Linked DNA regions of Homo sapiens. The protein of the gene in region 5 purifies or fractionates together with the protein of the main gene of each other region. This does not show direct contact. Each region holds a gene or a part of one and is shown on either strand. Other genes may lie near its edges.

Region 1 (4,151 bases), on a different chromosome or scaffold from region 5:
CTAGCATGGTGGCATGTACCTGTGGTCCCAGCTACTCTCAGGAGACTGAGGTGGGAGTATCCCTTAAGCCTAGGAGGTCATGGCTAAAGGAAGCCATGTTTGAACTACTGCACTCCAGCCTGGGTGATACAGTGAGACTCTATCTCAAAACAAACATAAACCATAGTGCTTGGTATTCATTCAGTATGTATTGGCATTCATTATGTGCCTGACACTGAAGACAGAATAATTGTGGCATGTTATATTTTCCAAAGATGGCTGAGACAGCATCTTCCATTCCATATGCTCTTCTACATTCTCTCATTGAGAAGTAGAGCCCACTTCTTGAATCTGGTATGACCAGTTATTCACTGCTTGACTTCTGAGGCTAGTCAGAAAAGGCAATTGGCTCTACATTGTGCTGGAACACAAGCTTTTGGAGCCCTGAGCTTCTATGTAAGAAGTCCGACTACCTGGAGACACCAGGCTGTGAGAAAGCCCAGGCCATACAGATAGACCACATGCAAGCACTCTAGTCCACTGCCCCAGCTAAAGGCCCAACAGATGGCCAGAATCAACAGCCAGACATGTGCATAAAGATGCCTAGAGATGACCAGGTTCCAGTTATTGAGACTTTCCAGCGGGGATGCCAGACATCATGGAACAGACATAAGCCATTCCCACTGTGCCCTATCCAAATTCCAAAGCAAAAGAATCTATGCGCATAATAAAATGATGTTTCCAGGCACTACATTTTGGGGTGATTTCTGACACAGCAATAGTAATCAGAACAGTGATGAACCTGACAAGTTTCCTGCCTTCATAGAGTTTATATTCTAGTGGGGAAAGACATATAATTAGCAAGAAAATGCCAAGACAATAATATGAATTATAAAATGCTGGGATAACCGTATACCCATGTGCAAAAAAATGATGCTGGACCCTTTCCTTACACCATACACAAAAAATCAACTCCAAGTGATTCCTAGAAGATATAGTCAATATTTATACATTTCAGTGATTCATTTAAAAATTAGCTTGAACTAACACCTAATCTGAAAGCTTTAGTATAGTCTTACTGTAGGAACTAAAGCATTTTTTTCTTTTTCTTTCTTTCCTCCCTTTTTTCTCTCTCCTCTCTTTCTCTTTTAGAGATAGGTTCTTGCTCTGTCACCCAGGTGTGATCATAGCTCACTGCAGCCTTGAACTCCCGGGCTCAGACAATTCTCCTGCCTCAGCCTTCTGAGTAGCTAAGACTGCAGGTGCATGCCACCACACCAGGCTCATGTTTTAAAAAAACTTTTTATAAAGATGTGGGTCTCACTATGTTGCCCAGGCTTGTCTTGAACTCCTGGGCTCAAGCAATCCTCCTACCTCAGCCTCCTCAAGTGTTGGGACTAATACAACTGAGCCACCACAGCCACCCGACTGAAGCATTTCTAATGTTAACAAGTACATGGCCAGGTGCAGTGGCTTATGCCTGCAATCCCAGCACTTTGGAGGACAAGGCAGGAGGATGGCTTCAGCCTGGGAGTTCGAGACCAGCCTGCACAACACAGCAAAACCCCGTCTCTACAAAAAATACAAAAAGTAACCAAGTGTGGTGGCATGCGCCTGTAGTTCCAGCTAGTCGGGAGGCTGAGGAGGGAGAATCACTTGAGCCTGGGAGGCTGAAGTTGCAGTGAGCCAAAATTGCGCCACTGCATTTCCATCTGGGCAACAGGGTGAAACCCTGTCTCAAAACAATAATAATAATGATGCTAACAAGCACACGATCTGTAGAAAACTTAAACATAGTGATAACCATGATTTTTTTAAACTCTAAGTGGATTACAGAATTAAATATAAGTGCAAAAACTAAAAAATCTTAGAAAAAAGCACAGGAGTAAATCTTCATAACCCTGGGTTAGGCAAAGCCTTCTTAGATATTATGTCAGAAGCACAAGCAACACATCAAAAAGAAAACACAACAAGGGTATGGAGAAAACAGAATGCTTATACATTGTTGGTGGGAATGTAAATTAATACAGCCATTATGTAAAACGGTATGGAGGTTCCTCAAAATATCAAAAATAGAGCTACTGTATGATCCAGCAGTCCCACTACGGATATACATCCAAAGGAAATGAAATCAGTATGTCAGAGATATTTGCACTCACATGTTTATTGCAGCACTATTTACAACAGCCAAGATATGGAATCAATAAATGTCCATTAATGGATAAAGGAAATATAGTGTATATACACAATGGAATACTATTCAGCCATAAAAATGAATAAAATCCTATCATTTGCAACAAAATGGATGAACCTGGAAGAGACTATGTTAACTGAAATAAGCCAGACACAGACAAATACTACATGATCTCACTCATTTGTGGAATCTGTAAAAGGTGATCTCACGGAAGTGGAAAGCAGAATTTTCTTTCCATAGGCTGAAGTGGTTAGGGGAGGGGGAATGGGGAGATGTGGGTCTAAAGGATACATAATTACAGTTAGACAGGAATAAGTTCAAGAGCTCTACTGTATAGCATGGTGACTACAGTTAGTGATGATATATTCTTGAAAAATGAAAAGATGGTAGACATTAAATGTTTTCACCACCAAAATAACTGTGTGATGTAATACATTTATTAGCTAGATTTAACTACTCCACAGTGTATATATACTTCAAAACATAATGTTGTACACAATAAATACATACAACTTTATTTCTCAATTTAAAAAATCTTGGCTTGGCACGATGGCTCACATCTGTAATCCCAGCACTTTAGAAGGCCGAGGCGGGCAGATCACTTGAGGTCAGGAGTTCGAGACCAGCCTGGCCAGCATGGTGAAACCCCAACTCTACTAAAAATACAATAAAATTAGCCGGGTATGGTGGCACATGCCTGTAGTCCCAGCTACCTCGGAGGTTGAGGCAGTAGAATAGCTTGAACCAGGGAGGCGGAGGTTGCAGTGAGCCGAGATCACGCCGTTGGACTCCAGCCTGGGCGACAGAGCAAGGCTTCTGCCTCAAAAAAAAAAAAAAGAAAAAAAAAAATCTTCTTAGGCCGGGCACAGTGGCTTGTATCTGTAATCCCAGCATTTTGGGAGGCCAAGGTGGGAGGATCACTTGAGGTCAGGAGTTTGAGACCAGCCTGGGCAACATAGCAAGATCTCATCTCTACTAAAAAAAAAAAAAAAATAAGATTAAAAAAAATTTAATCATTTTAAAATTTAAACTTAAAAAAGCATAAGCAACAAAAGGAAAAATAAATAAATTGGACTTCATCAGCAATAAAAACTTCCATGGGCCAGGCATGGTGGCTTATGTCTGTAATCCCAGCACTTTGGGAGGCCAAGGCAGGGGCTTGAGCCTGGGAATTCAAGACCAGCCTGGGACCAGCATGGGAAACATGGCGGGACTCCATCTCTACAAAAAATTTAAAAATTAGCTGAGTGTGGTGGCACGCACCTGTAGTCCCGGCTACTCGGGAGGCTGAGGTGGGAAAATCACCTGAGCCCAGGGAAGTCAAGGCTGCAGTGGGCTGAGATCACACCACTGCACTCCAGCTTGGGCAACAGAGTGACATCCTGTCTCAAACAACAACAACAACAAAAAATGTCTGTGCTTCAAAGCACACCATCAAGAAAGTACAAAGACAATCCACAGAATGGGAGAAAATTTTTGCAAATAATTTTTCAATCAGGGTCTTGTATTCAGAATATATAAAGAACTCTTAAAACTCAACAACAACCAAAAATACCCAATGACAAAAATGGGCATAATTTTGAATATCTATTTCTCCAAAGATATGGCCAAGCAGCATATGAAAAGATATTCAGCAACATTAGTCATTAGGAAAATGCCAATCAACATAATTTATGAGATACCACTTCACATCCACTAGGATGGTTAAAATAAGACATAATAAAAAGTTTTTGCCAGGTGTGGTGATGTACACCTGTAGAGCTAGTTGGTAGGCTGAGGCGGGAGGATCCTTGAGTTCAAATCCAGCCTGGGCAACATAGTGAAACCCCATCTCAAAAAAAAAAAAAAAAAAAAAAAAGAGTTCATCCATGAGAAGTCTGAGGGAAAAAACAGTGTTAGTGTTAACCAGAATGTGGAGAAACTGAAATACTCATATACTGTTAGGACTGTAAGAAGCGCAGCCATTTTGAAAAATAGT
Region 2 (4,151 bases), on a different chromosome or scaffold from region 5:
AGAAAAGAATCTCAAAGGCATAACAATTTATATATGCAAAACAAACTCTTACTTGTGTGTTTTCCTGTATCTTCCTGCACATGAAATACTATGCCTTATTAGTATTCTATCAGGAAAGGATGTGACATTTCGTTATGCATTTTATATTTAATCACATTTAGTATGTGAGTATCCATTTAGATATGATTAAAACTATTGGTACGATTTGGGACTTAATGCTTTCTAATTATAGAAACTTACATAATATATCCAACCCTAATACTTTCAGAGTGATTTCATACCATCTCATTTATATTTCACTGTCTAGTAAATTTGAAGTAATACCTGGGTGACCGATGATTTTTAATAAGGCAAGAGAAGGATATCCAAATTGGCATATTTCAGCCGGGCACAGTGGCTCACACCTGTAATCACAGCACTTTGGGAGGCCGAGGTGGGCAGATCACCTAAGGTCAGGAGTTCGAGATCAGCCTGGCCAACATGGCGAAACTCCATTTCTACTAAAAATCCAAAAATTAGCTGAGTATGGTGGCTGGCGCCTGTAATCCCAGCTACTCAGGAAGCTGAGGCAGGGAGAATTGCTTGAACCCAGAAGGTGGAGGTTGCAGTGAGCTGAGATCATGCCACTGCACTCCAGCCTGGGCAACAGAGCAAGACTCCATCTTTAAAAAAAAATTGACATATTTCTGGAAAATACCATAAAGTATATCATAAAGCTCCAGTAGTTAAGATTATTTGGTAGGAAGGCTAGTCTTAAAACATTCCATAATTGTTTCAGAAATGCAAGAGAATACCATTTAGTGCTTTTTAGTACAAGAAACTCAATACAAAATGTTTCCCTCGAGCTGACTACATTCTATTTTAATGAACAGATAACACTCAGTTTATTTATTTGAAAAACAAGAAACACAACAAGAAAACAGCAGGTATCTGAGGAATATTAAATGTCTCCCCTAACTTACTGTGTGCAAGTAAATTTACATACGTAGGAAATTCTTTAAATATTTAGAAAACCCCATTTCTATACAGATAGACAAAAGTTCTGAGCAATCAGGTCAAAATAATCTCAAATTAATAAGAGTTGATTGATAAATGTTTGCCTTTGTACATACACAAAAGCAAACAAAAGTTAGGCCTACTTTCAGTTTCAGACAATATAATAAATTGAAATTAAATACAAATTTTGACTCTCCTTCCTAAACTGAATAGATCCTTAAAAAGCAGATATATTTTACTTGTGTATTCACTCTTTTAAATTTAGACATCAATATCACTAGAATAATGTTTTTACACAAGATCACTTTTAAATTCAGTAAGAAGTTTTGTTATGTATATAAGCCTAAAATATGTAACCATTTATAACCAATTAATTTTACTGGAGGGGTTTCCTGTCTTCCCGAAGTTAATCCTTACCAACTAAAATTAGGAATTTTGAAAAAAAAAATCCATAAAAATTTCACAAACAAGCTTACAAATGCATTATCTAAGGTGCTTAAAATTAAACTCCATATTATGAACAACATTTTAAAAATTTGTATAAAATGATAATGTTTTGTTTAAAGAGGCATACTGAAAGCTAAGCCAATTTTTCACAGGAGGTGATTCTCCAACATTATTTTAACTTTGATGTGTGAATTTACTTTAGAGGTCCCTGGTCTATTTACTCTTTCTGACAGCTTATATTTTTCCGGATGCTCCTCAAACAAAGATTCATTCCTCATTCTTGCATCCTGCTTTTCTCCTTGTACTACTGCAGCCTTTCTTCTGTCTTTCCCTTTCTCTTACAACTTCATTCTCTACTTCTGATCCTGTCCAGATTGTACTCTCACTGCAAACAGTAAATTGAATAGAATACATCAGAACGATTTTCATAAAATTCACTTTTCCAAAACTACTCTGCATAATTTTATTCAAACTTTTGTTGAACATCTCTTGTATGGTATCCAACATGGTCACTCACTGTTTCTCTACATACTTCATTTTAATAGATATTAGCACTTTATCTCCTTCCCGAATCGTTGTAAAAAACCTTTACACAGACCCAGCAAGTTTCAGAGTTTACACACAAAACATCTTACTTTTAAAAAGTACCTCAGACTAATGAAAAACAATGTTCAAACTGACAGAGCACTTTTCTAATTACATTTGGTCATCTTTCAAGGCCCAATTAAATCTTTTTTTAATTTAAATAATTATTTTTATTTAAACTTTATTTTAAAGTTAAAATAAAGATAATATAATGTTGCTTTTTATTAATGTCTAAAGGCATATTCCACAAAAGAAACTGTTTCACATCAAATCTGTATTAATGAGAAAAAACAATGGGATTCCCTTAAAACAGTCTAATTTCTCATAAGGATCTGTATTAATCAAGCGAAGTCAGACCTGTAATGAATTCCAACCTCACATCTAAGGGGTTTTATTTCCTTTTGTGGTTTTAAATCTTGGTATATTCACAAGTTAAGCTCTACTGCGTCTGGCAACACAAAAACCCATCTGTATCTCTTTCTAATTTGGATCCAGTAACCTTGTAAAACAAACCCAGGGAATGGGTCCTGATGTAGTAACATGGCCTATCCTCCCAGACCGAACCAATTTCTCATGCCTGGGTGCTGCATTATATCAGTAGTGACATTTTAGCCAGTAGCCTGAGAGACTGAAAGCCTGTGATCTCCTTAGGAAGGGCTTTATGTCAAGGCAAACTATTTCTTCTGGTCAAATCTTATTTGGATTATTTCAAAATTTTTTGCTTGACATTCGGCATGTCATTTGTGCCACAGCTGCCATAGATAAGATGTGTCTTCTGTTGCTCATTTCAGTTCAAAGAGGAAACACGCAATCAATTAGCAAATACACCTCTAAAAATGTACTCAGTGAGAGAAAATTGCTAAACCACTGAAGCAAACAGCCCTTGACAGAAAAGAAAAAGATCCATGAATCATCTAATGCAAATACTGGCATTATTACAAAGCACAATGTTCACAACTATCTAGTATCACCCAAACAAAATGGTTTCTAAAATTTAGGTCGTTAAAAATAAGATTCATTAGATTCCTTATTTTCCTCCATTGAACAGTGTTAATTTTGTGATGTCATATTTTCCATATGAATATATTACGTTTTTACACACCACTCCACATTCATTAATTCAGCTAACATCTATAACACTCCCACTGTGTGCCGGGTACCACACTCTATTTCTCTTATTCACAACAATAATACTCTATGAGAAAGTGATACCTGGCCCACTTGAAAGATTTGGTTCACAGAAAAAAAAGAAAAAAAAAAGCCATAAAGTCTCTCCCAGAAACTCAAATAAAAATATTAACTTCCTCACCAGAATTGGCAATTGCAGACACAGTGCAGCTGGTCACTTTTCTGAGAAAGTTACATAAGCAAAAGCACAAATCTCTATGTGGGGCCTTCAAATGGCCTATTTACCATGACAGCAGCATTAACAATCAAGTTTTCAATATACACATGAAGAAAAATAAATAAAAAATAATGCTCCTTTTTAAAGGATAGTAGTAATAGCTAACATGTACTGAGACTCAGGCTGAAATCTAAGCGGTCATTATCTCATTTAATCCTCACATCATCCCTAGGGAATGGACATGATTGTAATCTCCACTTTACAGATGATGAACTGATGAAACTGAAGTTTGCATTACTCAAGATCACTCAGCTACTGACAGCTGGAACTCAAACCTGAGTCTGTCACCGTCCAAAGCCTGCACTCTTGATCATCACATTATACTGCTTTGTTTACACTCACTCAATTGCAGTCTAATGCTTTTGAATGTCTTATAAGGTTACTTTTTAGAACAAGTTCCTCTTTAAACTACCATTTTGATGATACATATAGAAGTCAACAAATAAGGATTTTACTTGGAATTGGTCTTACAAGTTTAAATTCTTGGATGAGAAACAAAATCCATCTGAATGAAAGCCCTGAATGTCCACAACAATGGGTCAGAAACTCACTGGAGCTTCAAGAGACCTTGAGAGTCATACAGGCCAAATTCTTCATTTTAGGAATAATGAAACAAATGCCTTTTGAAAAACATCTATATTCAATCTAAACTACTACATTCCCAATTCAGAGATACTTGTGAGTTTTTTTCTCCAGTCATTTAAATAGAAAATCTAAC
Region 3 (4,151 bases), on a different chromosome or scaffold from region 5:
GCTTCTCCAGGCATGGCACAGAACGAGGGACGAAACAATTGTTCCTCCCTTGAGACAAACTTCACATCGACCACTGTCACCAGATTTTATCTGAGCCTAGCCTGGTTGGTTTTTTTTGGGGATGGGGGGTGGGTGCTGGACCTGAGCGACATCACCTGGGTATACTGAAAGCTAACATTTGACCATTGGCCGTATGCCCGATGGGTCACATGATGCAAACTCATTTCCCAAGCAAAGTGCAGTGAGGTTGTAGAAAGAGCATTGGCTTTGGCAGCAGAAAGAACGGGCTCTCATGATCTGGCTTTGCCGCTTCGCTGAAGAGAGGCCTTCTGCAAGGCTCTTAGCCACTAAGAGCCTCAGTTTCCTCATCTGTACACTGGCAATAATAGCTCTTGCCTTGTAGAATTGCTAGGAGAATTCAAGATATTCCAGGGGCAGGGCCCCAGCCAGTGCCTGGCACATAGAAGGTACTTAATACATGGCAATTATTATTCTTGTTATGACGGTTTTAACATTAAGCTAGAAGTCCATGAAGAATGGTACCCTGCCACCCACCAATAAGACCTTGAATTCTTTTTCCTTACCCAGGAGGTTTCTTTAAATTCCTTCCATGGCCACATCACTGTGTCTCAAAGAGTGGCCCTCAAGCACTTAGCTCCCAGGGAGTTGTAGCAATGCAGATTCTTGGGCTCCGCTCCCAGACACTGATTGGAAAGGTCTGGGTGAGCCTGGAAGTCTTTTAACTAGAGTCTCGAGAGATTTCCCATGTGCTTGGAAGCTTGATTACTGCTGGAGGTCATCCTGGCCAGCCTGAGAGGTTGGGAGAAGGGCAGGAGCAGCCGAGCCAGCTGCTCCAGAAGTTTCTTTCAAGAGAATCATGCCTGGGGGGAGAACAGAAGGAAGGGAATCTGAGCCGAGAGAACAAGGCAGTGGGGACAACCCTGAAAGAGGACTGGAACCCCCAGCTCTAGAGGCTCCTGAAAGGCTCCAAAGGGAGAAAGTTTAGTGCTGGGAGCTAATCACAATAAAAGCCAACAGTACACAAGGGAGCGGGATGAAAGTTTAATTACATGGTGTGGCTAAGCTGTAATTATTAATTACTGACAGCAAAAAATAACTTATTGATCAGGGCCTTTCGCTAATTACCAGGAGGCCGAGTGTCGTGCTTGCCTGGGGCTCAGCTGTCAAAAGCCCCACTCGAGAGTGGAATGGGGGTGTCCCTGCTCTCCCATGCCCCTCTTTCCCTCACCCTTTGTACCCCTTGGCTTCCGCGGGGGAGTCCGGAACATTCTGGCAGTGGTTAGATGAGGGATACAGCTTGGTGCTTCCACTGGCTGCAGAAAATGGCCCCTGCCTGGGAGGAACAGAGTCAGGACCCCCACCCAGAGGCTACATCCCGCTGGCAGCCTGACACCTGCCTCGGAAATCCCACCCTCGACCCCCCCACACACACACCCCACCCCCGCTTCATGCATTTGTTCGGCAAATATTTATCGACTGCCTCTTCCTCGTGTCCTCTACTGGAAGGCCGGCATAGGGGCCAGGAACCTTGTTCTACAAGGGAAAGGAGGCTGGGAAGGAGGCCAAATTCTTTACAGCGATCCTCTGTTTAAACAGCGCCTGAATGGCTGACTTTAAAATGAAGTGTTAACCTGCATATTGGTCCACATTTGACTTTGTACCACAGGACGCAGTCGGGCTGTAAGCTAACAAGGAGGGGAGAATGGGCTTATCTTCTGTCCTAAGGACTAATGGGAATCATTGCATTTGACTTGAAAGACACACGAAAAGTCATCTAGGACCGTCGTCTGCCCACAAGGCCATCTGGTCTCTGCTTGCATACCCTTGATGATGGAGGACTCACTACTGCTCAACACCAGCTGGCTGTTAGCTATGTTTTATGCTGATGAAGAAATTGTCCCCTTATAGCTGGTTTTCCTAGGATCTGGCTGTGGTTGAAGGGGTCCTCTGATTGGCTGGAACCCTCTCCCTGTCCCTACGGACTCCCAGCCCCTCTGGGAGGCAGGAGGCTGAGTTGGAATTGATGTCGGGTGTTAGTGTGCGCCCTGCGGGGTTTCTACCCCGCTCCCCCTGGAGCATGTTGCCACAGACAGCCCTGGAGCTGCCTAAAGCGGTGGGAATTAGTCATCATAATTTGGGGCCTTGGGATGCCAATAGCAACAAATGGGCCAGCAGCAACTGGCGGCTGCAGCCCACTGCCTGTAATGGAAAGGAAAACAAGCTGGTTGCCGAGACACCCCGGGTGCCCCCTCCCCTAGGTGTCCCACCCCTGCTGTCCATGTGCTGGGCAGGAGGCAGAGCCAGTGAGCAGCGTTGAGCAGGGATGCTCAGCATCCCCGGGGGAAGGGAGAGAGGGGACTGCAGGGCTTGTCCCCTCAGACTCCCTGGGCCTGGTGCCTGGACCAAAAAGCCTCTTGCTGAGCCCAGGGAGCCCTGGGGAGACCCTTCTCCTGCAGACGTGGTGAATGGCTCCCAGCGTGGCTTCTGCCCCTTTGAATCCTGCCTCCATCACTGGGCGATGCTGAGCTGAGCCAGTTTTCTCATCTGTAAAATGAGTAAAGTTAAAAATAGTTGTGTCTACCAGCCAGGCACAGTGGCTCACGCCTGTAATCCCAGCACTTTGGGAGGCCGAGGCCGGCAGATCACTTGAGGTCAGGAGTTCGAGACCAGCCTGGCCAACGTGGGGAAACCCCATCTCTATTAAAAATGAAAAAATTAGCCAGGCGTGGTAGTGGGAGCCTATAGTCCAAACTACTTGGGAGACTGAGGCAGGAGAATCTCTTGAACCTGGGAGGCGGAGGTGGCAGTGAGCTGAGATCGTGCCACTGTACTCCAGCCTACACAACAGAGCGAGACCCTGTCTCATTAAAAAAAAAAAAAAAAAAGACTGTTATCTACCTTTTAGAGTTGTCTTGGATAATCAAATGAGATTGTCCAGATCACTTTGAAAATGCCCTTTGTAAATGTTAAGTTCTTATAATGTGTCCATTACAGTCCAGGAGGGTGTCCTGATCACTGCCCCTCTACTCCCCAGACATGAACCTCCCCTCCCACCTCATCTCCTCACTCCCCCTGCATTCACTCCTGTCCCCACACTGACTGCCTGTTGTTCCTGGAATTTACCAGGCCTCCAACCTGGCACTTGAAGTTCCTGCCTTTCCATCAGTGGTGCCCACACCACCCAGATGTCTACAAAGTTCACCCTTGTTTCCTCCAGGACTTCCTCCTAATATGTCTTATCCATCTCGGAGCACCCTATAACGTGGCATCTTCCAGCACCCACTCCCTCGCTCTCCATCATTTTCTCCATTGCACTCAGCTCCAGCTGACATATATTGACTTGTTTGTTTATTATTGGTGTCTCTGGAGGGCAGGGGCTTTGTTTCATTCACTGGTATATTTCTAGCCACTAGGGCAGTGCCTGGCACGTAGGAGGAGTCAGCATAATATGAAGACTGAATGAATGAATGAATGCTTACTGGAGGCATACAGCCCACGGTCATCTGGCCCCTCCCAGCTCTCCAGCTTCCTGCCAGGCCTCTCGCCCCATCTCCAGAGCTGATTGACTTGTGAAATGCCTCTCGTCTCTGTACATCCAGCACACCCCATGCCATGTAGCCCTCAGCGCACTGAGCAGCCAGGTACCTCAAGAGTGGGGGCCCCGCCCTCCAGCAGCTCCCGCAGATGCATCCATGGAATGGGGTAGTGTTGCCATTGAGACAGGAGTCCCTGCTCAGATTTTCTGGTCATTTTCCCAGCTCTTCCTGATTCTGGCCCGACAGATGAATCTGCCTCTTAGCAGGCCTGGCATCTGGGTTGGGCAGCCCCTGGGTCTCTGCTGAAGCCCCATCAGCTGAACTCCAACTTTATGATGTGAAGGAAATTGAGAGGAGGGGTAGAAGGTTTAGGGGGTAATGCCATTCATACATGGATGTACCATTTGAAATACACAAGGTCCTTGATTAATGCTCCAGAGGAAAAGGGAGAGGAAGATCTTGCCTCAGCACTTATATTCCCCTCCAGGCGCGGTGGCTCATGCCTGTAATCCCAGCACTTTGGGAGGCCGAGGCAGGCAGGCTGAGGTCAGGAGTTTGAGACCAGCTTGGCCAACATGGCAAAACCCTGTCTCT
Region 4 (4,151 bases), on a different chromosome or scaffold from region 5:
CTGTGTATTGATTGGTTATCAATAATAAGTTAGATACAGCTGGAAGCAGAAAAAGTTAGCTGTAAAACAAAAATGAATAAAGAACCCAGAATAGCACAGAGAGACAAGAACATGAAAAAATGACAAAGGAGGTTAACAGTATTGAAGGACAGAATGACTAAACATGTTTAATTGCAGTCACAGAAAGAAAAAGTTAAGCAGGTACAAGCTAGGTGATATTTGAATGGATAAGAACTGAGAATTCTCAAGAAAGAAAGAAACTCACAGGTATACAAACCACAACATATAACAAGTAGAATAACTGAAAAGAAATTCAGGGAGGGCATGGTGGTGTATGCCCATAATCTCAGCACTTTGGGAGGCTAAGGCAGTAGGATCCCTTAAACTCAGGAGTTCAAGATCAGACTGGGGAACATAGTAAGACCTTGTTTCTACAAAAAAATGTTCAAAAAATTACCCAGGTGAGGCTCCAGAGCCCGTGAAACAAATGTCTTATTTATGCCACCCTGTTTGTGGTATTCTGTCATAGAAGCCCAAGCTCACTAAGACCCCAGATAGAGCAATAAGCACAATGCTTATCACATAGTTTTCAGTAATTGGCAGGTGTTATTAATCATTATAACTCACTCATCCCAAAACAAAACATGTGCATTCCCAAGTCCATGCCTTTGCCCACATTATTTCCTCCACTTTCCCATCCACACCGCTGTCCCTCCCAAATCTATACTTAAGTCAGTCAATTATCTGTACAAGTCCAGCTCCTTTTTGAAATTCTCCTCTACCAGGTCAGCCCAGAGAGAGTAAGTGCTCTCACTTCTAAACCCACAGAATATTTACCCAAATGCTGCTCTGTTATTTGACTAAACTATATGTTCCCTCTGGTAAAGGGAAGACATTATCTTAAGTTCTCCTGCTTTGCCCATGGAATGCTTTACTGCCATGAAAATGGAGACTACCAAATAAATATGGATTGGCTGATTAAGTTTCAGTACCCTGACAGAGATGCTTTAAAGGAAAAACATGCCCCACCCCTGCCAAAAAAAAAAAAAAAAAAAGCAGCTGTCTTTGGATTTGTTGCATTGTCTCTAAGCTTCCAGGCAGCTGCACTTCATTCTAAAGACATTAAATATTTTCCTTAGAGAAAGACATCCAACAGGGAAGTCCATGTTGGGCAGGAAGAAGTGATGGGGCACATCAGCTGACAGAGTGCTTCGGGAAACATCTTTCAGAGTCTAGTTTCAACAGAAGTCAATTTCACCCTGTATTTTTATCACTCAAGAGGAAGAAAACAGAGATCTTCCAGGGGCTGCCACAGAGTAGGTGCTCAATAAATTTTGGCTCGCTTTGAACAGGTGAACAAAGGCCATTACTCAGATCGTTTTGTCAGTGTGTTCAAAAAGAAGGGGGGAGGCCGGTAATCTCGGCAGCTCTCAGTTTTCCAGCTAACCATTTGCTGAGGACACCACAGCTGACTCCCCCACCCAAAAGTCAGTGGCAACTAATCTCTCAAATGAGTCACAAACAATACATTATCAAGCAACTGAACTTCCAGTCAGCCACTCCTTCATCCAATGTGGCTGATATTAAGAAGCTAGAAAAAGGCACAATCCACATGCTATCACATTAAACAAACAAATTATATTTTCCCATTACTAGTGCCAAATTTAAAATTCCACTATTGTATCTACTGGAAGCCAAACCAAGATGCAACTTTTTTCATTACACAAAAAATATCCTCATCAAAGAACATTTGGAAAACAGACAAAGGAATACAAGAATCAACCAGGAAAACAAAAACAAAGAAAAGCAGAAAACAATTTGCTGTAACACTTCCACTCATAAACAGCCCCTATCAACAGTCTGGTTCATTCTCATCCTGTTTTTTCCCCTAAGCATAGATGTTTTGTGTAATCGTAATCATACAGTATATACTAGTATACCTGCAGCTTGTGTCACTTAAATGATATCATAAGCATTTCTCCATCTTTTTCTCCTTCTTAACCTTGTAACTGCACAAAAGCAGATGGCAGAAAGATTCTGAAATTAAACCAAGTCAATAAATTATTACCATTCTCTTTCTTCCAGAATAACTACTGTAGTACAAACTGACACTTTTCCAGAAGTTCCTAGGGCCACTAGAAATAAGACATTTTTTTAAAAATGCCTCGACACAAAGAGAGTGTTTAAGAAATGTTAACTCACTTTCAAGTGACAAAGTGAGATAAACTGAATATTTACTAGAATCACCTCTGGAAAGATACAAAAAAATTAAATTCAGCCTCTGTTACCAACAAAATGTTTATTATCATTGAGAAAATACAATGCACTGACACCTAACAACTAAAGCCCAATGTAAATCGGAGTCAATTACCCTGGCTCTTTAAGGACTGGCGATGTTTTACCCATTTTGCAACCCTAGCACACAGAACAGTGCCTGACACGTCATAGATACTCAATAAATGGGTGTTGTACTAAACTGAACTAGAGACTATGATCTAAGCTTATTTAGAGATAGGAAGGATCACTGTGGGCTGAGGTTGTCAAACATAGCAGATAGCATGACTATGGCAGAATTTGATTTTGGCAATAATTTTCAGGAAGAAGGCTGAACCATAGAAACCTTGGGAAACTGCAAATGAAAGATAATGTAAGAAAAAATGTTCATATAGTCCTAACTCTATTAAATAGTTTGATGTCTTTATACAAGCAGCACTGAAACCTCTGCTGTATGTATTAACTACTCATGGGAAATGTAATATATAACACATAACAAATACTACTTAAAACCAAAAGAAACACACCAACACAAAACACTACAGCATTCCTGGGACATCAGAAACAAGGGCTAACTCTCAGGAAGCTTTCTGTGTGCCATGCCAAGAAGCAGAGAGACAGTCAATTAAGGCTTTAGCTCTCCATATAGAGTACCACAGTGGATACTGTCCTTGCTAAACTAGGTGTAAAAGAATGTGCTTACCAAAACTTTCTTTCGGGATCGCTTTACACTCCAGTGAAGCTATTTGCATATACTGCTAGAATTCTGAGAGTACATGCAAAGATCTGAAATTTGCATTCAACTTTGACAGCATAACATTCACACCACCTGACTATAAACATCTTTTTTTTTCCCCCAAGACGGAGTTTCACTCTTGTACCCCAGGCAAGAGTGCAGTGGCGCAATCTCAGCTCACTGCAACCTCCACCTCCCGGGTTCAAGCGATTCTCCTGCCTCAGCCTCCAGAGTAGCTGGGACTACAGGCAAGCACCAGCACGCCCGGCTAATTTTTGTATTTTTAGTAGAGACAGGGCTTCATCATGTTGGCCAAGATGTTCTTGATCTCCTGATCTTGTGATCCGCCCACCTCGGCTTCCCAAAGTGCTGGCGTGAGCCACTGTACCCGGCCAACTATAAACATATCTTAAAAGAGAATCCAGCTGGGCGTGGTGGCTCACGCCTGTAATCTCAGCACTTTGGTAGGCCAAGGCGGGCAGGTCACTTGAGGTCAGGAGTTCAAGACCAGCCTGGCCAACATGGTGAAACCCCATGTCTACTAAAAACAATAAAAAAATTAGTCAGGCAAGGTGGCACGCATCTGTAATCTCAGCTACTCGGGAGGCTGAGGCAGGAGAATGGCTTTAACCTGGGAGGCGGAGTTTTGCAGTGAGTTTTGCAGTGAGCTGAGCTCATGCCACTGCATCAGAAACTCAGTCTCAAAAAAAAAAAAAAATCCAACTTCACCACTAGGGTATTCTTCAGCAGACTCCATACATCCTAACTTCATTCACACATATTTTCCTTTCTTTTACTACATTTGTGCTTTTAAAAAATTCAAAGAATTTATGGAGAAGGAATTTGCTAATACCACATCTCTAACAGCTGCTAGTCGAATGTACTAAATCCATAGCTGCGTCTGTTACATTATGTGGCCATCTTATACTTGAGGAAAGTCTGGTTGCTTTCAAAAGAACTGATTTAAACCCACCCCATGGAGTTTAAGAACAAGTTCCATGGAGCTTAGGGGTTGTGTGGATAATTCTGCCTGAATGTAATACTGCAATTACTTATGATTAAGTATCTCTAGTACTTATCCATTCAGTCTCCTTAGCCTGAAGCACTGAAGAACAAATGCCCATCAACAAGTCATGTGGGA
Region 5 (4,657 bases):
CAGAAACAGGAGCCAGCTTGGGGCCTCACCTCTCCGGGGATGAAGGATGACCCCAGTGTCACCAGGGACCAGAAGGCAATGCCCCCGCACATGAGATACTTCCGATTGTACCTGTCACCCAGGTAGCCAAACACAGGTGCCAACACCATGTAACTGGAGATGAACACTAGGGGGAAGCAGAGAGTCACAGCTCAGCCCAGGTACCCCTACCTCCCACTCCCACCCCAGCTGGAACCACTAAAGCACAGGAGATGCCTGCCTTCTCCTTACAGAATTCACAACACCCCCACATCCCAGCCTGAAGCCCATCAGAGCTTCCTGTCAGGCGGATGGTCCAGCTCCATCTTGAACACCTTTCCAGATTTCCCATTGTATAATGGATGGTCCCACTACTTGTCAATTCCTTCCACCTAGCCAAAACAAGCTCCAAACTCCATGCATACCATGGCTCACAATGCCCCTGTCCAATCTAGGCCCTGCCTACCTCTCCACACTCATGGCCAGCCTTTTTCCCTTCCTCTGTCTGCATCCCAATGGCCCAATTGTCAAGGCCAATACCACTAGGGGTTTAGGCACCTACTGCCTCCTCTATCAAGGACATTCTCTCCTCTCCCCCTGAAACTTCACAGAGCATAGTTCCTTCAGGTTCCAGCTCAGATACTTGCCCAGGGCCAAGGGTGAAGCATGCTGCCCAGGTGAGCACACATCCAGTACCTGACTCTCACATTTACTTTTTTCTCTTTTTTTTTTTTTTTTTTTTTAAACGAAGTCTCGCTCTGTTGTCAGGTTGGAGTGCTGTGGCGCGATCTCAGCTCACTGCAACCTCCGCCTCCCAGGTTCAAGCAATTCTGCCTCAGCCTCCCAAGCAGCTGGGACTACAGGGGCGTGCCACCACGCCCAGCTAATTTTTGTATTTTTAGTAGAGATGGGGTTTCACCATGTTAGCCAGGATGGTCTCAATCTCCTGATCTCGTGATCCACCCGCCTCGGCCTCCCAAAGTGCTGGGATTACAGGTGTGAGCCACAGCGCCTGGACTGTTTTCTGTTACATAACACTTATCCCTATGGGAAAACTGTCCCACTTTAGTTTAGCGTTTTACTGGCTGTTGCTGCCTCATGCATAGCGTACTATCAGCTCCCAAGGCAAGGTCCTTGCCTGTATTGGCCATGACTGTGTTTCTTTCACTTACTTAACACACAGCCTAGTGCAAAACAGGTGCTCAATAAGCATGTGAAGAGAGTGAATAAATCCGGCTGCCTAGAAAGAGCTGCTGCTCTAACTCAACAACTCTTCAGAGGTTTGAAGACCTTGCCCTATGATCCCATTCTCATTGCTCCAGACTTCACCTCAAATACCTCCAGTTCCTCATTGGCCTGGAGTAGAGAAAAGAACACTGCAAGACCTGGTTTCAAATTCCTGTTCCGCCTCCAACTGGTGGTGTGACCCTGGGCAAGTCTTAACTCTTCTCCAAGCCTCAGTTTCTTTATAAGCTGTAGATATCACTACCTACTTCCTCTATAAAATAGGAACAGTAACACCTATTTTTGACTGATAGAAGGATTAGAAGACAAGGGGCATAAAAGTTCTTCGCAAAGTCCTACAGGTGTAATCATCACTTCCTCCAGGCCTGGCACACAATGAGTACTCAGAAATGGTTGAGAAATGAATGAAGGATGGAAGGAAGAAAAAGGGCTTGGCTCTAGCTTTGCCTCTCCCACAAGTCCCAAAGTTGTGAACAAGTAAAACACACCTCTCCCCATTCCAGACACCCTCTCCTGCCTTTACTTATTTATTTATTTATGAGATGGAGTCTCGCTCTGTCACCCAGGCTGGAGTGCAGTGGTGCGATCTCGGCTCACTGCAACCTCTGCCTCCCGGGTTCAAGTAACTCTCATGCCTCAGCCTCCCAAGTACCTGGGATTACAGGCGCTCGCTACCATGCCTGGCTAATTTTTGTATTTTTAGTACAGATGGGGTTTCGTCATGTTGACCAGGCTGGTCTTGAACTCCTAACTTCAAGTGATCCACTCATCTTGGCCTCCCAAAGTGCTGGGACTACAGGCGTGAGTCACCACACCCAACCCTCCTGCCATTATTTACTGGGTGTCTACCATGTGCCAAACACTGCACTAGGCCCTTCACAGACAATCTTTTAGTTAATCTTCACATCAGTCCTAAGAGATGATTCGTGTTATTACTTGTTCCATCTTATAGACAAGGAAAATGAGGCTTAGAGAGGTTGAGTGCCTTGCCTACCATCACACAATAAGTGGAAGAGCTGAGATTTAAACCCAGGTCTGTCTTCACCTGGGTGAAGTTATACTTAGTTATACTAAACTGACTCCCTCTTTAAATGTGGTGTCCCGCTGACCCCCGAGCAACATCAGGGCCATCACCTCCCCTAACTGGCCACAAAACCTCCATTAATGAGCCCCTAGACAGGCCAGCGCGTGGCCCCACTTGAGACAGAACAGAAGGAGGAGCGGCTGTGTGACCAGGAGTGGTCCCCACTCACCGGTCTGGATGAGCCCAGAGCTACTGTCCCCGATGTTGAAGAACTGCTCGATGTCGGGAAGGACGCCTGAGGAGAAAATTCAGGATGGTCCGGCAAAGCAGCGCCACCCTCGGGACCCTGGCTCCCCTCTCCTAGACTATCTTCCTCCCAGAAGTGAGTCCCTACCAGCCACGGTGAAGCGGTCCATGTAGTTCAGGAGATTGATGTAGCACAGCACCGCCACTATGAGAGCCGAACGGCCGGGAGACAGGCCGGTGATGCGCTGCAGCCCCTCCTGGTCCGGGACCTCGGGCTCCTCGGACTTCGGGTTCCCCGTGGACCCTGGCAACCCCGGGGTGCCAGGCACTGGCCCGTCGTCCGGGTCATCCGCCTGGCTGAGGAAGGGCGCGGTGTCGGACCCGGCCATGGTCCCGGGGGGCCGCGCCCGCCCGCGCTCCGGTCCCACCGACGATCCCACCTGCGAGGGGAGGAGGCTGGAGAAAGGAGGATGGACCGAACACAGGCGAGGGAAGTGCGCCCGGAGACGGGGAGCTTGCCCTGAAGCACAGAGCACCACTGAGAAGGGACCCGGGCCCTGTCACGCCTCCCCGTCTCAGTAGACACACAGCGCGGAGGGGACGTGCGGAATACACGTGATGTCGGGGACAGGAGCGGGCTGAAGAGGGCACGATCCCACGCGGAGGCCACCCCTCACCCGGGGTAGGAGCCCGCTGCACTTGCTGTCGCTCAGCCCGGGCGCTGCACCACGGCAGCCGCCATGTTGCTTAAAGCCGGTCATGTGACGCGGGAGCCAGGGTGGAAGGGGTCCCCGCGGGCAAGCCTTCGACACGTGACCTGCCACCCGACTACGGAAGCCTCTTGGGCGTTCCGCCCGGGCTCACATGTCATGTGACGGCCGGCCGGTCGCCGGAGTAACCAGGAACTTTCCCAGACCCTGCGGTCCCTGGAGCGTCAAAAAGAGCGTCCCCGTGACTAGGTGGAGTCGCCTGCCCTTCCGAATCTCAGCTGTCTTATCTGGAACCCCCACGTGGCAGACTCCATCTTCATCAAACGGGATAATGGGGTCTCAAAAGGTTTTGGAAGTAGTAGATACCTCTAAAAGCCAAGGAGCAGCCCTAGTTCTCGGGAACCATCCTGTCTTCCTCCCAGGGTCTGGTTGGCGGCTTTTTACTCTCAATAAAGGATGGATGGATGGATGGATAAATGGATGGATGGAGCTTGAGCAGCGCGATGGATGGAGGATTGGAGGGACGGAGGGATGGACGGACGGACGGATGGAGCTTGAGCAACGCCCCGCCCTTTGTTGAGATTCCCCAACCCTGCTAGCCTTGTAAACTCCTGAGCCTTCACCGTGGACACTTAAATACCTATTAAAGGAAGCGTCTCCACCCGCCGCTCCTGGAGCATATTTTTCCTCACTCCAATCGGGATTGGAGCCCTTGCGCCCTCCGGTGGGCTTTTGTAGGGCAGGCAGGAGCTCCTAGCCTAAGGAGACTCCCAGCTGCAGGACTAGGGTCAAAGGGATAACTTGGGAGTGGTTCTTTAGTGGCACCCTATAATCTCCAAGCTACATCTAATAAAGCACTCTAAGTAAAATTAGTATAGTTCTGTGCAAATACAGCTTCAAGACCCATCTTTCAACCAGCCCTTAAAGGCCCTCTACTGAAATCCTGGAATCTCGTGGGGAGAGCATCCCCCAACCCCAAAACGCCTTGTTAGAAACTATTTCGAGTCCGAATACCCATAATTGGCTTTAACCCCCCCCCCCCCCCCATATTAGGTGCCTCGTGTTTCAGAACCTTAAGCTTGGTTTCCCCTGGCGGACAGGAACTTCAGGTTGCAGGCATTTAATTCCCTCAACAAGATATTATTGAACATGTATGTGCCTGGCATTTTACCAGGTTTCAGGGAAAGGCAGACTTACTCCCTTCCCTCGTGGAGCTTATCTAGAGAGTGATACGCATTGTAAATTGCACCTCTGAAGTGAAAAGGCAAGCCACAGGTTGAATGAAAATATTTACAAAGCATCTATCTGCCAAAGGACTTGTATCCATGTAAAGAACTCTTTTTTTTTTTCTTTCTTTCTTTTTTTGGAGACAGACGCTTGCTCTGTCACCCAGGCTGGAGCTGGAGTGTAGTGG
Region 6 (4,151 bases), on a different chromosome or scaffold from region 5:
TGATATATGTAAGAGAATTACATATGTACGAAGATGATGAATTCTATGGCGGAAAGAAGTGTAGTAGGTAAGGGGGATTGGTCACAGGTGGGCAGGTTAGTAGGGTAAGCTTCATGGGCAACATGAGATTTAAAGAGAAACTTGAAGGATCGGGGGCTTTTCCCACATGGACACCTGGTGAAGAGTATTCTAGGCAGAGGGTGCATTAGAGCCAAGTCCTGAAGGCAGGAACATGCCCAGGAATAGTGAGGGGATTAGTGCAGTTGGAACAGAGTGAGCAACCAGGAGGGCCTAGGAGATAAAAAGTGTAGAGGGTATTATAAGGTCTTCTAGGCCATTGTAAGCACTTTGGCATTTAACTGAGTGAGACTGGCATTCAGTGCAAGGTTTTAAGTAGAGGAATGGTGTGCCTGCTTTGGCTGCTGCCTTGAGAATATTCTGTGGGGGACAAAGGTCATATAGTTAAGAGATAGTGGTGGTTGGGATCAGAGTCTAAACTGCAGGTGATGAGGAATGGTGAAGATTCTGGATAAATTTGAAGATAGAACCAGTATGATTTCCTGGCTGAATGGAAGTGGGGTTTGAGAAAGACAAGTTTTTTAAACACTCTCTTGGCTGACTACGCATAGGGTCATCATCTGGTTTAAATAGCATGTATTTCTGGTGAAGGCTTACATCAGTAATTTTCTAAATGTTCTTTTAAAATAATTGTTAATGTGTAAACTTTAGGTTGTTTTTGTTTGGTTTCAAACTCCATTTCCTACCTCATTGATTTGGTTGGTTCATCTGATTAGGTGGGAGCTTCCTCTCATTCTGCTTGATAAATGCATCGTGGAGTGACATCCTAGTTGTAGAGGACTCTACTTCAGTCTGTTCAAATCCATGTTTATGGAGTAGTTGTTATATCCCAGAGACTTCCTTGTGCTTGGGATATAATGAATACAGTGAGACCTTTAGCCCTGATCTCAAAGGTTATTTTGCCATAATGTATAGTTGGTGCCACCCTGCCAGTGTGGGCAAAATGCTATGAGAGGCAAAATGAGGAGGCTCTGAATTCTGCCTGTCTGGTACACAGAGAATGCCTTTCTAAGAGGTATTACTCTTTTTTTTTAACTGATACATAATATTTTTGTGGTACATGTTATATTTTGTTACATGCATAGAGTGTGTAATGATCAATTCAGGGCATTTAGGATACCCATCACCCAGAGCATTTACTCTTTTGAGACAGCCTTGCTCTGTCCTCCAGGCTGGAGTGCAATGGCACAATCTTGGCCCATTGCAACCTCCGCCTCCCGGATTCAAGTGATTCTTGTGCCTCAACCTCCCAAGTAGCTGGGATTACAGACATGTACCACCATGCCTGGCTAATTTTTGTATTTTTAATAGAGATGAGATTTCACCATATTGGCTAGTCTGGTCTCGAACTCCTGGCCTCATGTGACCCGCCTGCTTCAGCCTCTCAAAGGGCTGGGATTACAGGAGTGAGCCACCGCACCGGGCCCATTTACTCTTGATCATGAATGATGAGTACTATCTAGGCTAAACAGCCAGTTTGCTGGTTTTCCACAGCAAATTAGAAAGGAGAGGAAAAGGGATAAATAGTAATCAGTCTACCTGTTAAAGAAGAAAAATTCAGTCCATTTATTTAAAAATATGCATAAGCTTTGCAAGCATAGAATTCTGAAATCTTTTGATACAGATACCTTAATAACTCCTGATAGTACTACTCATGCAGTACTGCTCAATAATGTATTTTAATAGAACTTTCTCTTAGTGGGACAGTATAAATCAGTATCAATACTGGTAATGGTAATATCCCCCAAATCATGACATATTCCTGCTATAGCGATATAACTCAGATGTTCTCAGGACAGCAAGTTTACATGTGAATAGAGAGGGAGGGACGTGTTAGGAAGACATGAAATTCAATTTTGTACTTTTGATACTTTCCAGAGTTCTAGATGACACTTTCCAAAGTGTCAAGAAATGGTTAAATTATTTTCAGTTTACTTTTAAGAAATGGTTTAATGTGGCCAGGTGCGGTGGCTCATGCCTGTAATCCCAGCACTGGCTCACGCCTGTAATCCCAGCACTTTGGGAGGCCGAGGTGGGCAGATCATGAGGTCAGGAGATCGAGACCATCCTGGCTAACATGGTGAAACCCTGTCTCTACTAAAAATACAAAAAAATTAGCCAGGCATGGTGGCGGGCGCCTGTAGTCCCAGCTACTCGGGAGGCTGAGGCAGGAGAATGGCGTGAACCTGGGAGGCGGAGCTTACAGTGAGCCGAGATCGCGCCACTGCACTCCAGCCTGGGCGACAGAGCGAGACTCTGTTTCAAAAAAAAAAAAAAAGAAATGGTTTAATGTAAGTGACGAATTTTGAAAATTGTGGGCCTTTTAGACAGTGATTATTTTAGTGTTCTAATCTAGAAAATCTACATAAAGAGAATGCCTTATTTTTGGACATTGTGAATAAATTAGACTTGATTTAATAACACCTGTCAATATGTATGTTAAATAACAAAATACTATGTCTGGCATGCTGCTCCATGCTTCATATTTAATAGAAGTGTTTTTCTTCTAGGTTCAAAAGATGTCGTGATAAAGGCACAGGTTTTAGCTGGTGGTAGAGGAAAAGGAACATTTGAAAGTGGCCTCAAAGGAGGAGTGAAGATAGTTTTCTCGTAAGTCACATTTTTTAAGGAAAAATCATCCTTGTTAAAGACTGATTAAAGATTACTTATTGAATTGATGAAAATACTGAAATTTAAATATTAGATGAGATAAAATTTTGGCTATTATGTGGATTTGCTTTTTCTCAACTGGAGGAAAGAAAAATTTGAGTTCTTTTTCTTATTTTAGTCCAGAAGAAGCAAAAGCTGTTTCTTCACAAATGATTGGGAAAAAATTGTTTACCAAGCAAACGGGAGAAAAGGGCAGAATATGCAATCAAGTATTGGTCTGTGAGCGAAAATATCCCAGGAGAGAATACTACTTTGCAATAACAATGGAAAGGTCATTTCAAGTGAGTAATTGTAGACATGATACATACGGGATAAATTTATGACATTCAATTTCAAAAGTCCATTATTGTTTCTATTTATGTGGGAAAGATTTTAAAAGTACAAATTATAATCTGTTTGTATGTCATGAGCATGATATTTATGTCATTTAAAAAACAGCTTCTTTAATGCCGTAAAATTTGATATATAATATCATGATCTTAAAATTATAGGAAAAATTCTGCTGTAATAAATTTCATGGGATTCTCAAATTGTTAATTCACTAAAAGCAGCTTAAATCATCTCTGGATCATCTCCAGATTGAGAAAATTATATCTAGCATAGTAAAATATTCTAATGAAAGAGAAAGTTGCTGAACCCACTAGAAGAATGTGTATCCATTGCCTCATCTTCTGTTTTCTCAACTTCTTGGGTTTGTTTTTTTTTTTTTAATAGTTTCGGGTTTGTTTCACTATATGATTCAATATTTGGTAAATTGAGGGATGACATTAAGTAGCAAACAATATGGTTTTAAGGAGTATTACATTAGCACAGCTCTCCTCTCTTTATGGAACCTAAAATGTTGAACATAAAGCTTCTGGTGAAGAGAAAATCCCTTTATAGACCTGGTGTTTGGAAGAGAGCATTGATAATCATTTTATACTAGAATTATCTGTTTTTCGAGGGTATTAGGTTTTACAAGCTGAATCTGTGTGTTAACTAGCTTGTTTTTTGAAGCAACTGGGTATATATTTGAAAGCCCCAGTACGGATTTCATGTAGAACATTAATTGTGTAGAATTTAGAGTAACAAAAATTTTAAGAGTCATGAAAATAATTTTCTTATGTAGAACAACTTTTTTAAAAATAACAACTTTCTGTATTGTGATTTTTCTTATTTACAATTAAATCTATTAATGTTTGAATGATATGTCTTTTGCAACTTTTAATTTTTATAAGGAAGTATTTCTAAAGATATAACACTAGATGGTAGTAAAAATCCACTCAGAATATAAAATTAAGAAGCATTGTTTTATTCTTAAGTGATATTCTATGTGATAGAATTTAGTTTGTAAGTTATTTTAAAAATCCCATGACAGTAACCTCATATATTACCCAAAATTTACATAAATTATATTTTTACAC
Region 7 (4,151 bases), on a different chromosome or scaffold from region 5:
GACTTTCAGATTGGTCTAAATTTTGATGGCGTAAAGTTTGAAATCCTTATAATGGTATACAAGATTCTTCACAATTTAGTGCCAACCTCTTTCCAGTTCATCTCTGACCATTCCCAAAACAAGTGTTTCTCAGTGTGCCCTAGTGTCAGTCAGTGAACTGCACTGAACTGTTTTTTTAAAACAAAAAACAAAAAACAAAAAAACTGGTTCACAATTAGATGTGTACATAAATAGAAAGTAAGCATTTAGAAGCCTTAATATCACATGATCATATTTATTTATTTATTTTTAGACATGAAGTCTCACTCTGTCAATGCTAAAATGCAGTGGTGAGATCATTGCTTACTGCAGTCTGGGCTCAAGTGATCCTCCAGCCTCAGCCTCCCTAGTAGCTAGGACTACAGGTGCACAACCACCCACCTGGCTAAGTTCTTTTTTTTAATTTATAACAAATTACTGGGATTACAGGGGTGATCCACCATGTCAAGCCACAAGATCATTTTTTCTAGTAATTTATTGTTACCGGATTTTACAAAAGTATTGGTCCTCAACAGATTGGAAATTTAAGAAAACCAATCAACCTGTGTAAACTAGTTCAACCATTGTGGAAGACAATGTGGCGATTCCTCAAGGATCTAGAACTAGAAATACCATTTGACCCAGCCATCTCATTACTGGTATATACCCAAAGGATTAGAAATCATGCTGCTATAAAGACACATGCACATGTATATTTATTGTGGCACTATTCACAATAGCAAAGACTTGGAACCAACCCAAATGTCCATCAGTGATAGACTGGATTAAGAAAATGTGGCACATATACACCATGGAATACTATGCAGCCATAAAAAAGGATGAGTTCATGTCCTTTGTAGGGACATGGATGAAGCTGGAAACCATCATTCTGAGCAAACTATCACAAGGACAGAACACCAAACACCTTATGTTCTCACTCACAGGTGGGAATTGAACAATGGGAACACTTGGACACAGGGTGGGGAACATCACACACTGGGGCCTGTCATGGGGTGCGGGGAGGGGTGAGGGATAGCATTAGGAGATACACCTAATGTAAATGACGAGTTAACGGGTGCAGCACACCAACATGGCACATGTATACATCTGTAACAAACCTGCACGTCGTGCACATGTACCCTAGAACTTAAAGTATTAAAAAAAAAAAAAGAAAACCAATCGACCAAACAAACCTATTCTTTAACCAGAGGTGTTAGAAGATTAAGAAGCAGAGTTAAATCACTCTGCTTCCTAGAGTCCAGCTCACCTTCACTGTTCACCTTTGTTGCTCTAAACATGCCAGTTCCTCTTCCTGGGTTTTCTCTCCATACATGGCCGTCTGCTGTTGTATTAAACCCCGACCTGCCTCAACCAGTTTTCCAACTGCTATTCAAGTGAGAAGATTGTGTAATTCCACTCATTCAGTCAATCAAGAAATAGTTACTAAAGGCTTACTATGATGAATGTAACGGGCTTCTCTCAATGTGGCAGGCAAGGTATATTCTCATGAATAAACTCTACTCAAAGCAGCATTCTCTTGGTACAAGAAGTGTCTTGTCCCCCTAGTCCCAGAACCAGGGCTGCATATGAAGGAGAGAATGATTGAAAGATATCATCTACTAAAAGTAGTTATTTTTTCCCTCAGCTGGAGGAAGCGTAGAATACGGTGGAAATAATACTTTAAACCAAATTAAAGAAATTAAAGTGACACTAGTAAACATTTTATTTTCACCCAGATGCTCCTAATTTTTATATACAGGTTCATTTATTCCTATGCAGAATAAATCTTATGTAAATTTTTAAAGCATAAATATCCAGGCTTAACAGTATTCTACCCAACTTCAATTGGATTCTATCCAACTTCAATTTTGTAGCCAAATGTCATTTCAGATGATGATTTGCTGGATCATTTGAATGATAAAACTTAGTTTTCCATGTAAACTTGGCAGCAAAATATAAGGATTCAATGATTTTTATACCTTCCAGAAATTTTCTACCCATCACCGCTAACAACATATAGAAAAGCTTGCATGAAACACATTTATTTTACATCAGACTGCAATCTTGGAAGAGCACCAGCTTGATGGATGGGGAAGGCTTGACCAAACAATTAAGCATACAAGTACATTTCCTGGGGGCAAACAACTACTTGCTACCTAGACAGTAAATTTATAGGACACTTTACAACAGAATCAGACAACAGACCAAACAGCGAAGAGTCCAGCTAAGAAGGCTTTAGGAAGATGGCCAAGAAGAAAAAAAGCTGCACACAGCAAGAGAAACTGCTGATGATTAGGAGTTTAGGCTTTTATTCAGGGCAAAATATGCATGCAAAATAGATTATCAACATTTCAGTAAACGACTGTTATATACTGCATCTATTTTTTGTTTATTCATATCTTCTGTTTTTTAAAATAGATTGCATTAAACTCAATCCCAAACCCATAACATTCAGTCTTCTCGAAGCCAAAAGAAAAACTAGAACCTGAATCCCTCAGTTTCTAATAAAACCAATTCCAAAGATAGTGATTCCTTTGAACATACACAAATGTCCAGAAACCATCCCATCTTCCCAGCAGGGGCTGTGTTTCATGAATTCACAGGTGACTACATACCCCTGTAACTTTTATTATGAGTTGAAATTCTTGACTCCATCAGGAGGAACATGTGGAGATAATTTAATCCCTCCCCTCTAGCCCAAGCTTGAATGTTAACCTCACTCATCCCTCACTCAGTAATAATCCCTGCTCCTTCTCCCACCACCTTCTTTGTCTGGGATAGGGCGGGAAAGCAGTAGACACACACACAGACACAAATACAGACAGTCACTTGTAACATACACACATATACTTGCAAAGGCCAACTATCTTGGAAGACTAGGGAAAAAGACAGAAGTGCCTGGGACTGAGCTTCAGTTTATTTGGGAAGCTACTTTCACTTTCACTTTTTGCATGGAAGGCTTAAATAATAATTTCTGTAACTTTCATTATTTAAACAAATGTAACAGTAGTTACCATTGATTAAGCATCACATGCCAAGCTCTATGCTGAGCACTTTATGGATATCATCTTATTTCCTCCTTGCAAAAATCTTATTAAGTAGATACATATCCCCATTTTATAGATGAAGAAACTGAACTGGAATCATATAGGATCTGTTGCTTTTAAGCAGAAGCAGGATTCCTAGTTTAATGTTTAACACCTGGAATTTTCTCTTCTTTGCCAAAGCCTACAGATTCACACCATATAGATCCAACACATGCTGTTAACTCCAGCCAACTCTTGTTTCAGAAAGAAATCAGATCCATATGGCTTTGCCTTCAACAGTCACAGTGAATTAACAGTTCTCCCCGTAGCATGCCGTGCCTCTCTTGACCCCTTTTCCTGCTTTATACTGAAAATCATTCCTGAGTACCTGCCAAGATAAATTCTAGATTTCTGGGTGCTTAGAAAAAAAATGGTTTGATTATAGTATAACTGCTAGTTACTGCTTGAACCTTAAAACTTGGTCTCAGCATAGAACTTTCAAGATCCACAGTTCATTTGCTTCTAAGGTCTTCAAGAAATAGGAAATAGTGAGAATTTCTGAATTGCACTGCAGGTGTCTAGTATTTCATGGAAATGCCAACGGAGGCTGCTTTAGCTTTTTCTGTCCTGGATTTTGTGGTATTTTTCAAGAATATCAGGAAGTAAATTCAATGTATATTTCTGGAATGCCTTCAATGAAGGAAGGAGGGAAGATCAGGGTTTACTCACCACCAGCTCTAGTGAGGTTACCCGACAATGTCGGGTGCTGATAACAGCTTGTAACACAAGCAAGGAGGATGTAGAAAAGCAGGAGGCAGAGAGGGGGAAAAAAAGAGCTAGAAAGAACAAAGAGGAGGAAAATAGAGAAAGAGAAGTGTCACACAGGCAAGGGTGGGGTACAAGACCCTTCCTCTGATGAATTGTAACAGTCTTCCCTTTGTTACATGAAGGTTAACATTTCAAATATAAAAATGAAACTTAAAAGATTTCTTCTCTGTTTTTGTAAAACAGAACACCACTAAGGTATACATTTTTATTTACCTAAAATTGATGAGGAATTTGAAATGTCTCTAAAAGTCATGGGAGTATTATAGTGAATTGCAGCGA

The links.
Region 1: the proteins of SPNS1 (region 5) and POLD3 purify together in Homo sapiens (tandem affinity purification; one large-scale study listed by IntAct). This does not show direct contact.
Region 2: the proteins of SPNS1 (region 5) and NPTN fractionate together in Homo sapiens (co-fractionation; one large-scale study listed by BioGRID). This does not show direct contact.
Region 3: the proteins of SPNS1 (region 5) and SDK2 purify together in Homo sapiens (affinity purification with mass spectrometry; one large-scale study listed by BioGRID and IntAct). This does not show direct contact.
Region 4: the proteins of SPNS1 (region 5) and JAM3 purify together in Homo sapiens (affinity purification with mass spectrometry; one large-scale study listed by BioGRID and IntAct). This does not show direct contact.
Region 6: the proteins of SPNS1 (region 5) and SUCLA2 purify together in Homo sapiens (affinity purification with mass spectrometry; one large-scale study listed by BioGRID and IntAct). This does not show direct contact.
Region 7: the proteins of SPNS1 (region 5) and AASS purify together in Homo sapiens (affinity purification with mass spectrometry; one large-scale study listed by BioGRID and IntAct). This does not show direct contact.

What each region holds. Positions count from the first base shown.
Region 1 is NC_000011.10:74,595,046-74,599,196, reverse strand, and holds part of POLD3 (DNA polymerase delta subunit 3), read right to left. Parts: intron 1-4,151. UniProt on the Homo sapiens protein: Accessory component of both the DNA polymerase delta complex and the DNA polymerase zeta complex.
Region 2 is NC_000015.10:73,626,571-73,630,721, forward strand, and holds part of NPTN (neuroplastin isoform b precursor), read right to left. Parts: intron 1-4,151. UniProt on the Homo sapiens protein: Probable homophilic and heterophilic cell adhesion molecule involved in long term potentiation at hippocampal excitatory synapses through activation of p38MAPK. May also regulate neurite outgrowth by activating the FGFR1 signaling pathway.
Region 3 is NC_000017.11:73,637,562-73,641,712, reverse strand, and holds part of SDK2 (protein sidekick-2 precursor), read left to right. Parts: intron 1-4,151.
Region 4 is NC_000011.10:134,071,892-134,076,042, reverse strand, and holds part of JAM3 (junctional adhesion molecule C isoform 1 precursor), read right to left. Parts: intron 1-4,151. UniProt on the Homo sapiens protein: Junctional adhesion protein that mediates heterotypic cell-cell interactions with its cognate receptor JAM2 to regulate different cellular processes. Plays a role in homing and mobilization of hematopoietic stem and progenitor cells within the bone marrow.
Region 5 is NC_000016.10:28,973,417-28,978,073, reverse strand, and holds the start of SPNS1 (protein spinster homolog 1), read right to left. Parts: upstream 3,297-4,657; 5' UTR 3,295-3,296; coding exon of another isoform or gene 3,211-3,294; 5' UTR 2,974-3,210; coding exon of another isoform or gene 2,923-2,973; coding exon 2,682-2,922; intron 2,583-2,681; coding exon 2,517-2,582; intron 167-2,516; coding exon 30-166; intron 1-29. UniProt on the Homo sapiens protein: Plays a critical role in the phospholipid salvage pathway from lysosomes to the cytosol.
Region 6 is NC_000013.11:47,987,419-47,991,569, reverse strand, and holds part of SUCLA2 (succinate--CoA ligase [ADP-forming] subunit beta, mitochondrial precursor), read left to right. Parts: intron 1-2,588; coding exon 2,589-2,688; intron 2,689-2,866; coding exon 2,867-3,029; intron 3,030-4,151. UniProt on the Homo sapiens protein: ATP-specific succinyl-CoA synthetase functions in the citric acid cycle (TCA), coupling the hydrolysis of succinyl-CoA to the synthesis of ATP and thus represents the only step of substrate-level phosphorylation in the TCA.
Region 7 is NC_000007.14:122,134,097-122,138,247, forward strand, and holds part of AASS (alpha-aminoadipic semialdehyde synthase, mitochondrial), read right to left. Parts: intron 1-4,151. UniProt on the Homo sapiens protein: Bifunctional enzyme that catalyzes the first two steps in lysine degradation.